Homo sapiens: one gene and its partners. Changing the gene in region 1 together with any one later gene gives a genetic interaction. Each region holds a gene or a part of one and is shown in the gene's direction. Other genes may lie near its edges. The genes, in order: MAPK12, SSTR5 and CYP4F12.

What was found.
Region 2: changes in MAPK12 (region 1) and SSTR5 together harm fitness more than expected from each alone (negative genetic interaction), as found in Homo sapiens cells (one large-scale study listed by BioGRID).
Region 3: changes in MAPK12 (region 1) and CYP4F12 together harm fitness more than expected from each alone (negative genetic interaction), as found in Homo sapiens cells (one large-scale study listed by BioGRID).

Annotation. Positions count from the first base shown.
Region 1 is NC_000022.11:50,255,506-50,258,795, reverse strand, and holds part of MAPK12 (mitogen-activated protein kinase 12), read left to right. Parts: intron 1-494; coding exon 495-553; intron 554-1,602; coding exon 1,603-1,714; intron 1,715-1,831; coding exon 1,832-1,861; intron 1,862-2,149; coding exon 2,150-2,197; intron 2,198-2,596; coding exon 2,597-2,711; intron 2,712-2,914; coding exon 2,915-2,986; intron 2,987-3,101; coding exon 3,102-3,181; intron 3,182-3,264; coding exon 3,265-3,290. UniProt on the Homo sapiens protein: Serine/threonine kinase which acts as an essential component of the MAP kinase signal transduction pathway.
Region 2 is NC_000016.10:1,071,194-1,074,942, forward strand, and holds the start of SSTR5 (somatostatin receptor type 5), read left to right. Parts: upstream 1-1,553; 5' UTR 1,554-1,629; intron 1,630-3,749.
Region 3 is NC_000019.10:15,689,972-15,693,620, forward strand, and holds part of CYP4F12 (cytochrome P450 4F12), read left to right. Parts: intron 1-3,649. UniProt on the Homo sapiens protein: A cytochrome P450 monooxygenase involved in the metabolism of endogenous polyunsaturated fatty acids (PUFAs).

The DNA of each region.
Region 1 (3,290 bases):
TGTCACATGACCTGTCTACTGTCTATCTCCCCAACCAGGGGTGCTGAGGGGACCAGGTCTGGTGGGTCACGGTGCTGTCCGCCTGGGCCTCACCAGCAGAGGCCTGGCCTCTTTCCATAGCGCTGTCCCCACCCTGGGCCTGGATCTGTTTGGTTGGGGTGAAGAGGGGTGAAAGGGTCAGGCGGCAGGAGCCCTTTGGATGGTTCGGAGCCATCCCAGACTCCGGGTTGCCCCTCCCCCAGAAGATCCCGGTTGTCACCGTCCAAAAATAACCTTTCTGTGGGTATGTGTGCCAGGGCTGGGCCACACTGCCAGTGGGTATGTGTGCCAGGGCTGGGCCACACTGCCAGTGGGCAGAGCCAGGCCCTTTGGACAGTGGGGCATGACAATGACAGCTGCAGAGGGGGTTTCCTGCCCAGAGGGTTGTGCCACTCTTGGGGGGTGCCCCAGCCCGTGTCCTCTGCTGCATTCTCAACCCTATGTGGCCCCCCCAGGTGATCGGGCTGCTGGACGTATTCACTCCTGATGAGACCCTGGATGACTTCACGGACTTGTGAGTGCCGACCTGGGCTGGCCGCTGGGCACGAGGGGTGTTGGGCAGCTCTGGGCACTGGCTTCAGGTTCTAGGTTGGCAATGGGGTTCTCTTCCTGCAGCCTGAGTGGGGGATGCACACCGCCCACCCCCTCCCCATACCACTGTCCACCCCACGCCCTCCCCCACATGGTCCTGGGACCCACGGGCACTGGCACAGCTGGGCAGAGCTGGGGCTGCTGCCTCTCTCCACGCCTGGCACCTGGGCCCTCTCCAGCACCGGAGGTGTGAACCTTGGACCTGACCATTTGTTAACAGGAAGGTCCCGTGCTCGGGACCCTGGCACCAAGTGTGTGGCCGGTAACTGGAGCTGCTGACCTTTTCCAGCGGGTGGGGGAGAAGCGGTAGGGAGGACCCACCCTGCCCCTGCCCTGCAGCCGACCACCCTGGGACTCACACCCTGTCGGCCAAGAGTGAAGGGCCAGGCCGAGGAAGGCCTGGAGAGGGTAGCAGGCGCCTCCCGCCTGACTTGCAGAGGTCAAGTCAGTGGCCTCTGGGAAGGTGCTAAATACCATTCTCCTGTGTCTGTCTCCACCGGCCCAGCCGACCCCTCTGACCCAGATGCCTTGCCGCGCCCCCATCGCCCCCAGGCACCTCCCTCATTTCTGGCACAAAGTTGTGAAGTTGAAACCTGACTGCCTCCCTCCCCTGCCTGTGAAGACTCGAGTCCTGCTGCCTCTACCATGGAGCCTCAGCCCCTAGCCTGGCACGCAGGGCGCTTCAGCGGAGGGTTCAAAAACCCCAAGGCAGCCTCCTCCCTGCCTGACAGTCCTCAGGGTGGGAGGGGGGTGTGAGCGCTGCTGGCAGTAACAGTTGCGGGAGGATGGAGCCTGGCACTGCAAGGTGGGGCTGCGAGGACACCGAGGCCAGTGTGGATGTGTGCTGCAGGGGTGACCTTCCTGGGGGTGCCTGTTGGATCCGGGACGGGTCTGAGCCTGGGCCTGCTGGGTGGGTCTCTGGGATGCAGAGGCTGGCTCTGTCCGCTGACAGCGCTCCGGCCCCTCCCACAGTTACCTGGTGATGCCGTTCATGGGCACCGACCTGGGCAAGCTCATGAAACATGAGAAGCTAGGCGAGGACCGGATCCAGTTCCTCGTGTACCAGATGCTGAAGGGGCTGAGGGTACGGGCCCCGGGGGAGGCTGCAGGGAGGCAGGCAGGGCCTCGGGGCTGGGCAGAGGAGGGCCCTGTGGCTCTGAGAGGGTGCGCTGAAGCCTGCCAAATCCTCTGCCCCCCGCAGTATATCCACGCTGCCGGCATCATCCACAGAGTGAGTCCCGGTGGAGAAGCCGCTCATCAGCCCTCCCCCAGTGCAATCCCCCCGCCTCCACGTCCCACCTGTGAGGATGTGATGGGGTCTGGGTGCTGAGCCACGCCCTATGCACAGCCCCTGGTGGGAACCTGCCTGGGTGCCCAGGTACCTTGGTCTGCCCTTGAAGGGCTGCAGAGAGCAAGGGGGCCAGGTCCGGTGGCCCCATCTTTAGGTGCCACCCAGGCTCTTGGCTGTGCCCATGCTTGGGAGGGTGGGGCACAGTGGCCACCTTTCCTCTGCCCCCAGGACCTGAAGCCCGGCAACCTGGCTGTGAACGAAGACTGTGAGCTGAAGGTGTGTGCTGCCTGGCAGGGGGCCCTGAGGTGGGGCAGGGGCCCCCTCTGGATCTGCCCATCTATCCACCTGTCAGGCCTGGGCAGGGGGCCAAGGTCCCAGGCTCTGGGCAGTGGCTGAGGAGCTGGTGGGTGGGTGAGCCCAAGAGGCAGTGGTACACAACATGCCGTACCCAGGGCACCTGCTCCGTCCCGAGGGCTGCTGGGCTTGGTGCACTGGCCAGAGGGAGGAGCTCGGGGCAGTTTGGGGTCCGAGGGCGTGGCCTCAAGTCCTTGAAGGTTGTCAGGAGGCCCCAGCTTGGGAGCTTCAAGTCCAACCCCCCGGGGTCTCCTGGACCGTGGGTGGCCTGTCCGCTCCTTGGGAGTCCCCTAGAACCCACCTCCCCAATTCTTCCCACAGATCCTGGACTTCGGCCTGGCCAGGCAGGCAGACAGTGAGATGACTGGGTACGTGGTGACCCGGTGGTACCGGGCTCCCGAGGTCATCTTGAATTGGATGCGCTACACGCAGACGGGTGAGAAGCTGCCCAGAGATCTGGGCCTCTCAGGCTGCACCATCTGCTTCTCCACTTCTTCACGGACAGCCCTGTGGTGGCTGCTCCCAGGGAGGCTGTTGAGCTGGGGTGGGAGCCGGGCAGGTGGGCTGTGTTGGTGTCTCCTCCCTCCCCGTCTCATCCTGTCCCCCTGCCCACGGAGCTGACCAGGGCTTCTATCTCAGTGGACATCTGGTCTGTGGGCTGCATCATGGCGGAGATGATCACAGGCAAGACGCTGTTCAAGGGCAGCGACCGTATCCTCCAGCCGCAGGGCGGCACCAGGGGCGGGTGGGGATGGCTCCTGCCCAGGTGGGGGCAGTGGGGGCCCTGATCTCTGGCCCCCGAGCTGTGTTCCTGACCTCGGTGCAGACCTGGACCAGCTGAAGGAGATCATGAAGGTGACGGGGACGCCTCCGGCTGAGTTTGTGCAGCGGCTGCAGAGCGATGAGGTAAGGGGTGAGTGGGGAGCTGGGTGGGGGTGGGGGCGGACCTGGGCCTTGGTGTTGGCCCCTCACCCTTTCTTCCCACACAGGCCAAGAACTACATGAAGGGCCTCCC
Region 2 (3,749 bases), on another chromosome or scaffold:
CTGAGCTCCCACTGGGCGCTGGGCCGTGACTCGCACACCGGACCCTGCACCCCTGGGGCACCCAGTGATTCCAGAACAGTGGGACCCCAGAGGCTTCTCAGGGAGCCCCAGAACATGACAGATGGGGGCCCAGGTGCGAGGCAGTGGGAGCTGGAGGAACACAGCCAGGGGCTGAGGCGAGAACCATGAGGATGGTGGGCAGAGGCTGAGGGGAGGGGCAGCAGATGGAGATGGGGGAGGCGTTAGGGGTCACAAAGGGGGTTCTCAGAGGATCTGCCTTGGGAAGCCACTGCTGTGGGAGGGTGGGAGGGATACAGCCCAGGTACCTCCAGAGAGGATGGAAAGGCTTATGGGGCGGATTCTGGGCAGGGGACCTGGGACCAGCCTGCAGCCTCCCCTGAGGGCCTGGCCATGGCCGCAGGCTGGGGAGGAGGGGAGGGGACCTTGGGGCCAGGTGCCATGGTCCTCTAAGCACTCTTGCTCGATGGTAAACATAACACGCGCTGCTTGCAGAACATGTGGAAACACTGAAACGCTTAAAGGAGAGAACATGGTCCCGGTACCCGGCCTTCAAGGGAGCTGCTGGCGCCTGTTCAACAGGAGCCGACCCCACCTGTGAACAGACGGCAGGCGGCTGCTCCCATGTCCCCTCAGAGAGGGGCCCTCCGAGTTCTGCTGTCACCTGGGGGCGCCTCACTTCATTCAGCCAGTGGCGGGGCTCCCTGGGTCGGCACAGAGTCAGGGGAGGGGGCTGGGGGACCTCCTGGTGGGAAAATGTCCGGTGATCCCCAGCCTCCGCGCTCAGCGGGAGGAGGCGCTCGGTCCCGCTTCTTACAACCAGCGGCGCTCACGGCGGGCCCGGGGATCAGCATCCCGGGAGCTTCTCAGGAATGCAGATTCCCAGGCCCTCACTGCCTGGGGAGTCGGGGGCCCAGCTCGAGGCCCAGGAATCTGCTTTGAGGACCCAGGTGACTCTGCTGCCTGCCTGAGAACCCCACCTTAGGTGAGGGACTAAGGTGTACCCATGGATTCATTTCAGGGGAAATAAAAAGAACAACTTAGCAGGTAGTCTATGCTTAAATATGTGTAGGATCCACAAATAAGGCATGGATAAAACCCGAGTGGAGTGTCCTGGAAATCCCACGACCACGGACCCCCCTCGCTGGGGCTGCCTGCCGCCCCCACCAGCCTCCACACACCCACTTATCTCCACAACCCCAGCCCACCCCTCAGAGACGTCTGCAGAGCCCCTGACCCTCTCCCCTTGAACAAGGACCCTCCACCCTCTTCAGACTCTCGACGAGGGACCCCCTGGACTCCTGCTGGCGGCAGGACCCCCACCCCAAGCTGGGGTCTACCACAGAGCGGACAGCAAGAAAATAGGGTGGGGGCGCAGGCGATCATGGGGTCACTGCCAGTGGGACCAGGGCTGTGGGCGAGTGCGCCAGGGTTCCCGGAGGCCAGACGTGGGACCCGGGAGTCGAGCAGGTGAAGCGGCCCTGCCCCGCCCCCACCAGGCACTGCCCCGCCCCCGCCCCGCCCCGCCCCCTCCCAGCCGGCGCCCGGGAGCCCGGAGCCAGTGCCGCGCGGACATCGGGGCTCCCCCGTTCAGAGGGCGCCGCCGCCCAGGTGAGTGCCGCCCGCCCCTGTCCCCCTCCCGCGCGGGCACCCCCTGCCCTCGGCTGTTATCCCCACTGGGGGTTTCACCCTGTGTGCGCAGCCCCGGCCCGGGGTCCCGCCGTGCGCCCCCAGCCCGCTGCACGCACTGTCCCCCACGCGCCCTCCGCACACCCGCGGGGCTCTCCTGCCGCCGCCGGGGGTCCCTCCCCTCCCGTTCCATCCACTCCCAGCAGCTCCATCCCTCCCATCTCCTGCCCCCACCCCACAACTCACCATCTGCAGGCACCCCGTGTGCCAGGGTCAGCCCAGAAGCCACAGGGGACCCAGATGGCCCCACTCTGCCCACCGCGCCGCTCCCGGCCTCTCCTCCCCACGACGGGGGCCACAGCGGGGCTGGCTCCTGGAGCTGGAGGAGGGTGGGTAAGGCTGGGGAGGGCTCGGAGCCTGGGGCTGGGGGCCGGAAGTGGCACTCAGGCCACAGGGAACCACTGGGCCACGGAAGGAGGGTCCCAGGGTGCCCGTGGCACCCAGCGAGGGGAGGATCCGCAATTTGGGTGCCGGGGGAGGCAACTGGTGCCTGCGCGCAGCTGGGTCGGTGAGCTCCTGGAAGGCAGCAGGCAGAGGCCAGCACCCAGGGGCCCTGTGACCTGGCACTCACAGATGGGTTCCCTGAAACCCAAGACTGGGGAGGCTGGGGTGCCACCCCGCCCGCTGCGAACAGAGCCCCCTCCTGTCCAAGGCACCGCGTGTACCTGGAATCCTCCTGGCGTCTTCACCCTCTCCAGAATAGAGAACACGCCACTGGGGTGTGTGCCCTTGGCCCTCCTCCCCCACCCCAGACCCACCCACGTGCCCGACCCGCTGTCCCCAGCCTGCCAGCCTGCCTGGGGCCCCCTCAAGGGCAAGAGAGCGGAGTGCATGGTGACAGAAGTTGGGGATGGTTCCAGTGAGGCTGAGCCCTTTCTGAAGGCAGTGATTCTGGACTATGTAGGTGGGGACTGCCAGAGCCTCCTGGGCAGAAACTGGTCAACAGCACCAAGGACAGGCGCCTGGCGTTGATTTCCAGAGCAAGACCCAGCGAGGCTGTCAGGAGGTGCCTGGTGTGGAGGGTGCCCCGAGAAGCGTTCGCGGAGCACGCGGGACCCCTGCTGCTGCTGCTCCAGGCTGGCCCACACCTGCCTCAGTTTCCCTCTCCTGGGGAGGGTATGTGCCCCTGGCCACAGGCTGCCGCAGGGACAGGTGGCGTGTATGTGGGGGACAGGCAGGGGTGCCATTGGCTGCACTCACAGAGCTGGACCCCAAGGGGGCAGTGGCCTGCCACCAGGCCACCCTTACGACAGAGGAAACAGGTCAGAACGCTTGTCCTGGGAGCACAGGCCTGGCTCCGGGGCCTTTGGAGGGGCTGGGGCCTGTAGTCTTAGCTAGGGTGTCCCCCGACGTTTGCCCCTGCCCAGCACACAATGGAGGAGCCCGGGTGGGTCTGCAGCCTCTCCAGGGTGCGGCGTGGGCCCCGGCCGTGTGAGCCGCTGCCTCCCCGAGCAGCAGGTTCCGCAGCCCCTCCAAGCTGCAGCCGCATCGCTGCCCCCCATGAAGGAGCCGACTCCCCGACCTCGTGCTGGGTTAGCCTGGAAGGAGTTGGCAGGGTGCAGGCTAGACCTCCACCCAGTCATGGAGGACTTGGTGCTGAGGCCCCGCCTCTGGTCCCAGGCCCCTGTGAAGACTGCCCCCTTCTCCGAGGAGCCCAGCGGCCTCCTGGATGCTGGGGAAATGCTGGGCTGCTTAGGGCAGCTTGTGGGAGCAATCGTTGAGCGCCCAGTGTATGCCAGCCCCGCTGTGGTCCCCGTCGTGGGGAGGTGAGGCCGGGAGCGGTGCTGTGGGCAGACTGGGGCCATCTGGGTCCCCTGTGGCTTCTGGGCTGACCCTGGCACACCGGGCACCTGCAGATGGTGAGTTGTGGGGTGGGGGCAGGAGATGGGAGGGATGGATGCTGCTGGGAGTGGATGCACGCAGCACCCTGCACACAGAAGCTCACTCAGTTTCATCAGCTCAGCAACCCTACAGTTTGCAGGAGTTGCCTATCCCAGAAGCTGGGCTCAGAGAAGCCCGTGACTTACCCCAGACCACGCAGC
Region 3 (3,649 bases), on another chromosome or scaffold:
AAGGGAGAAAAGACTGCATATTGGGGACAGTATACACTGCATGGGTGATGGGTGCACTAAAACCTCAGAATTCACCACTATAGAAATCATCCATGTAACCAAACCACTTATATCCCAAATGCTATTGAAATAAAAGGAAGTAAAGAAGAGACAGATCTGCACATTAACAATATATCTTTGGGAGCTTTTCTTTTTCTAAAAATATGAGTTTTGGAAAATTAGTTCGTTTTTATTTTTAATTGGCAAATTTTAATTATATATGTTTATGGGGTGCAATGTGATATTATGATATATGTATACAACGTGGAATGATTAAGTCAATTTAATAAACATACCCGTCATCTCATATACTCATCATTTTTGTGGTGAGAATATTTGAAATTTGCTCTCTTAGCAATTTTGAGAAATTTATTATTATTAACTGTAGTCACCATGCATGCAATAGATCTCAAAACTTATTCCTTCTAACGGAAACTTGTACCCTTTGACCAATGTCTTTCCATTCTTTCTTCCTCCCTTCTCTGGTAACCACCATTCTCTTCTTGGTTTCTATGATTTCTGTGTTAATTATTTCAGATCTCACAGTTAATTAAGGTTATGTGCTGTTTGTCTCTTTGTGCCTGGCTCATTTCACTTAGCATAATGTCCTTTAGGTTCTTGCAGATTGCCACAAATGAAAGAATTTTCTTCTGTTTTAAGGCTGACTAGCATTCCATTTTGTATATATACACCACACGGAAAATGAGTTTTGAATTACAAAAGCAATGATGAGAACAGTTTCTTCTTGCACTCAATGAGGCATCACAGATAGACAAGGGTTATTCTTGACATTCCTGCTATCCCACCTAATATCCTCCCTTTCTCCAAGGGGGCCTGTAGAGATACTTATTTGTCATCTATCTGTCTGTCTGTTTACATCTATCTACATATCTTTCTATCATCGATCTCTTCTTATATTCCTTATATTTTTTGTCCTATGGTATTTACATATATGGACATTTGGGAACATGTTTTTTTCCACTCAATACTGTGTCTGACAGATATTTTTTCTGAGTGCTGAATAGCATTCCATGTTTTATTTGGCCCATCCCTTTGTTGAAGACACTTGCGTAAACATTTCCAATCATTGGAGGTATGGCCAATTTGCATTCCAGAGTCTCTGTACTGATTTAGCTTCTGGTCTGCATTGTGTGACAGGACTAGTGATCCTTTTTTTCTCCTTTTGTGTAGCTGTATACTATTCCATTGTGTGGATGTTTATCTAAACATCTCCCCATCCATGTATATTTGGCTTGTTTCATCCTTTTGCTAAATTAAACTTGTGCAATCGGCATGTGTGTACAGTGAGCATTGCTCATATGTATAAACATCACTGCAGGACAAATTCCCAAAAGTGCAATTGTTGAACCAAAGACCATTTGCATTCTACAGTTGTAATAATGATTGCAAATCCATCTCTATATTAGGTGAGTTTGATGGCACTAGCTTTCCCACAAATTTGCCAATAGTATTATTGTATTATTAAATTTAAATTTTTTGTCCATCTTCATATTTCATCTTTTAATGAGCATTTTCTTAAATAAGAGTGAGAAAGAACATCCTTTGCCCAAGTTGATAAGCCATTTATTTTCTTTCTATGGGAGTGGTCATCTGATATTTTCTGCTGTTTTTCTTTGGGTTCTTTTTTCTTATTTACTTATAAGAATGTGTATCACAATTAATGTTTTTTTTTTCTGTTTTTTTGTTGCAAAAGATTGCCTTTTGACTTTTTTGGGGGGTGCTTTTGGTTAATTTTTATGAAGTTACATTTGTTCGTATTTTCTTTTGTACCACACTACCCAGCTATTTCCCAGAGTTTTGTGGGGCTTCCTTTGGCAGATGGGAAGTTTCCACTTATTCACATGCCCGTCTCTGACCTTTTTAGTCTTTTGAATGCATCCGTTTTTATGGCATTGCCAGACTATTTTTTCTTACTGTGACTTTTCTTTTCTTTTTTCTTTTTTTGAGATGGAGTCTAGCTTTGTCGCCCAGGCTGGAGTGCAGTGGTGCGATCTCAGCTTACTGAAACCTCCTGCCTCTCTGGTTCAAGCTATTCTCCTGCCTCAGCCTCCCGAGTAACTGGGACTACAGGCACCCTCCACCACGCCTGGCTAATTCTTGTTTTAGGTAGAGATGAGGTTTCACCACATTGGTCAGGCTGGTCTCAAACTCTTGACCTCAAGTGATCCACCCACCTCGGCCTCCCAATACTCTGACTTTCTAATGGGTTTTAATATCTGGCAGAGTGGCTTTTTTTGTTGTTAAATCAACCCCTGCAAACATTTATTGTGTGATAAAGTGTATGTTTTATTTGGATTGAGGGAAATTTATAATGAAATACAGAGATTTCATGTTTCTTTTTAAGTTTAATCCAGGTATTTTATATTATTATGACTAGTATCTTTTCTTTTATTATCTTTTCATTTGATGGTTATTTCTATATGGTAAAACTAATGATTTATGCATATAAATTCTATGCCCAGTGAACATAGTATATGCTAAAGATGGTATCTGTATCAAGAGAAAAAATATAGATAATTAAGTAAAAGCTCTTGGGGCAACTGGAAAGCCTTCTGGAAAAAAGGCAACTGAACCTTGTTCTCATATCTTATGACAAGATAATGTTCAGATTAATCATTTTTTTCTAAAAGAGTCCTAAAAGCTCTAGAAGGAACCATGAGAAAATTATTTCATAGCGCCAGAGTAGGGATAACCTTATTTTGACGTAAGTCCCAGGGGCTATGAAAAAGTGATAAACTGTTAAATGAGAGAAAAGATACACGCCAGCCACGGTGGTTCATGACTGTAATCCCAGTACTTTGTGAGGCCAAGGTGGGCAGATCACTTGAGATCAGGAGTTCAAGACCAGCCTTGCCAAATTGGGGAAACTCCATCTCTACTAAAAATAAAAAAAAAAATTAGCTGGCTGTTGTGGTGAATGCCTGTAGTCCCAGCTACTTGGGAGGCTGAGGCAGTAGAATCACTTGAACCAGGGAGGTGGAGGTTGCAGTGAGACAAGATTGTGTCACTGCACTCCAGCCTGAGCAACAGAGACTCCATTCCCTCCCCCCATCAAAAAAGATACAGAATAGTGTCTACAGTAGATGGTGTGCTCCTATATAATTTTTTAAGATGCTTAAAATCAGCCCAGAAAGCATACATTAAAAAAAATAATAACCTGGCAACGTGTGGGGAGAAGTAAATGGCATTGGGCCATAGGAGTGAATTATGTTTTATAGTTTTCAAATTCTGAACCAGATAATTGTAGACGGTATGAAAATTTTAAATAGCCACTGCAAAAGAAGAAAGATTAAGCAGAGAATTCAGCTCCTTTGCTTGATCTTAAATGTTTATAAACGTTTTCCAGTGGGGCCTCTAGTGTTTTCTAAGTATAAAATCACTATCTGCCAAAATGATACATTTACTACCACATTTCAAATTGCCTGACTCTCGTGTTTTTTTGGCTGCATAAATGTCTTCTTTTGAGAAGTGTCTGTTCATGTCCTTCGCCCACTTTTTGATGGAGTTGTTTTTTTCTTGTAAATTTGTTTGACTTCATTGTAGATTCTGGATATTAGCCCTCTGTCAGATGAGTAGGTTGCGAAAATTT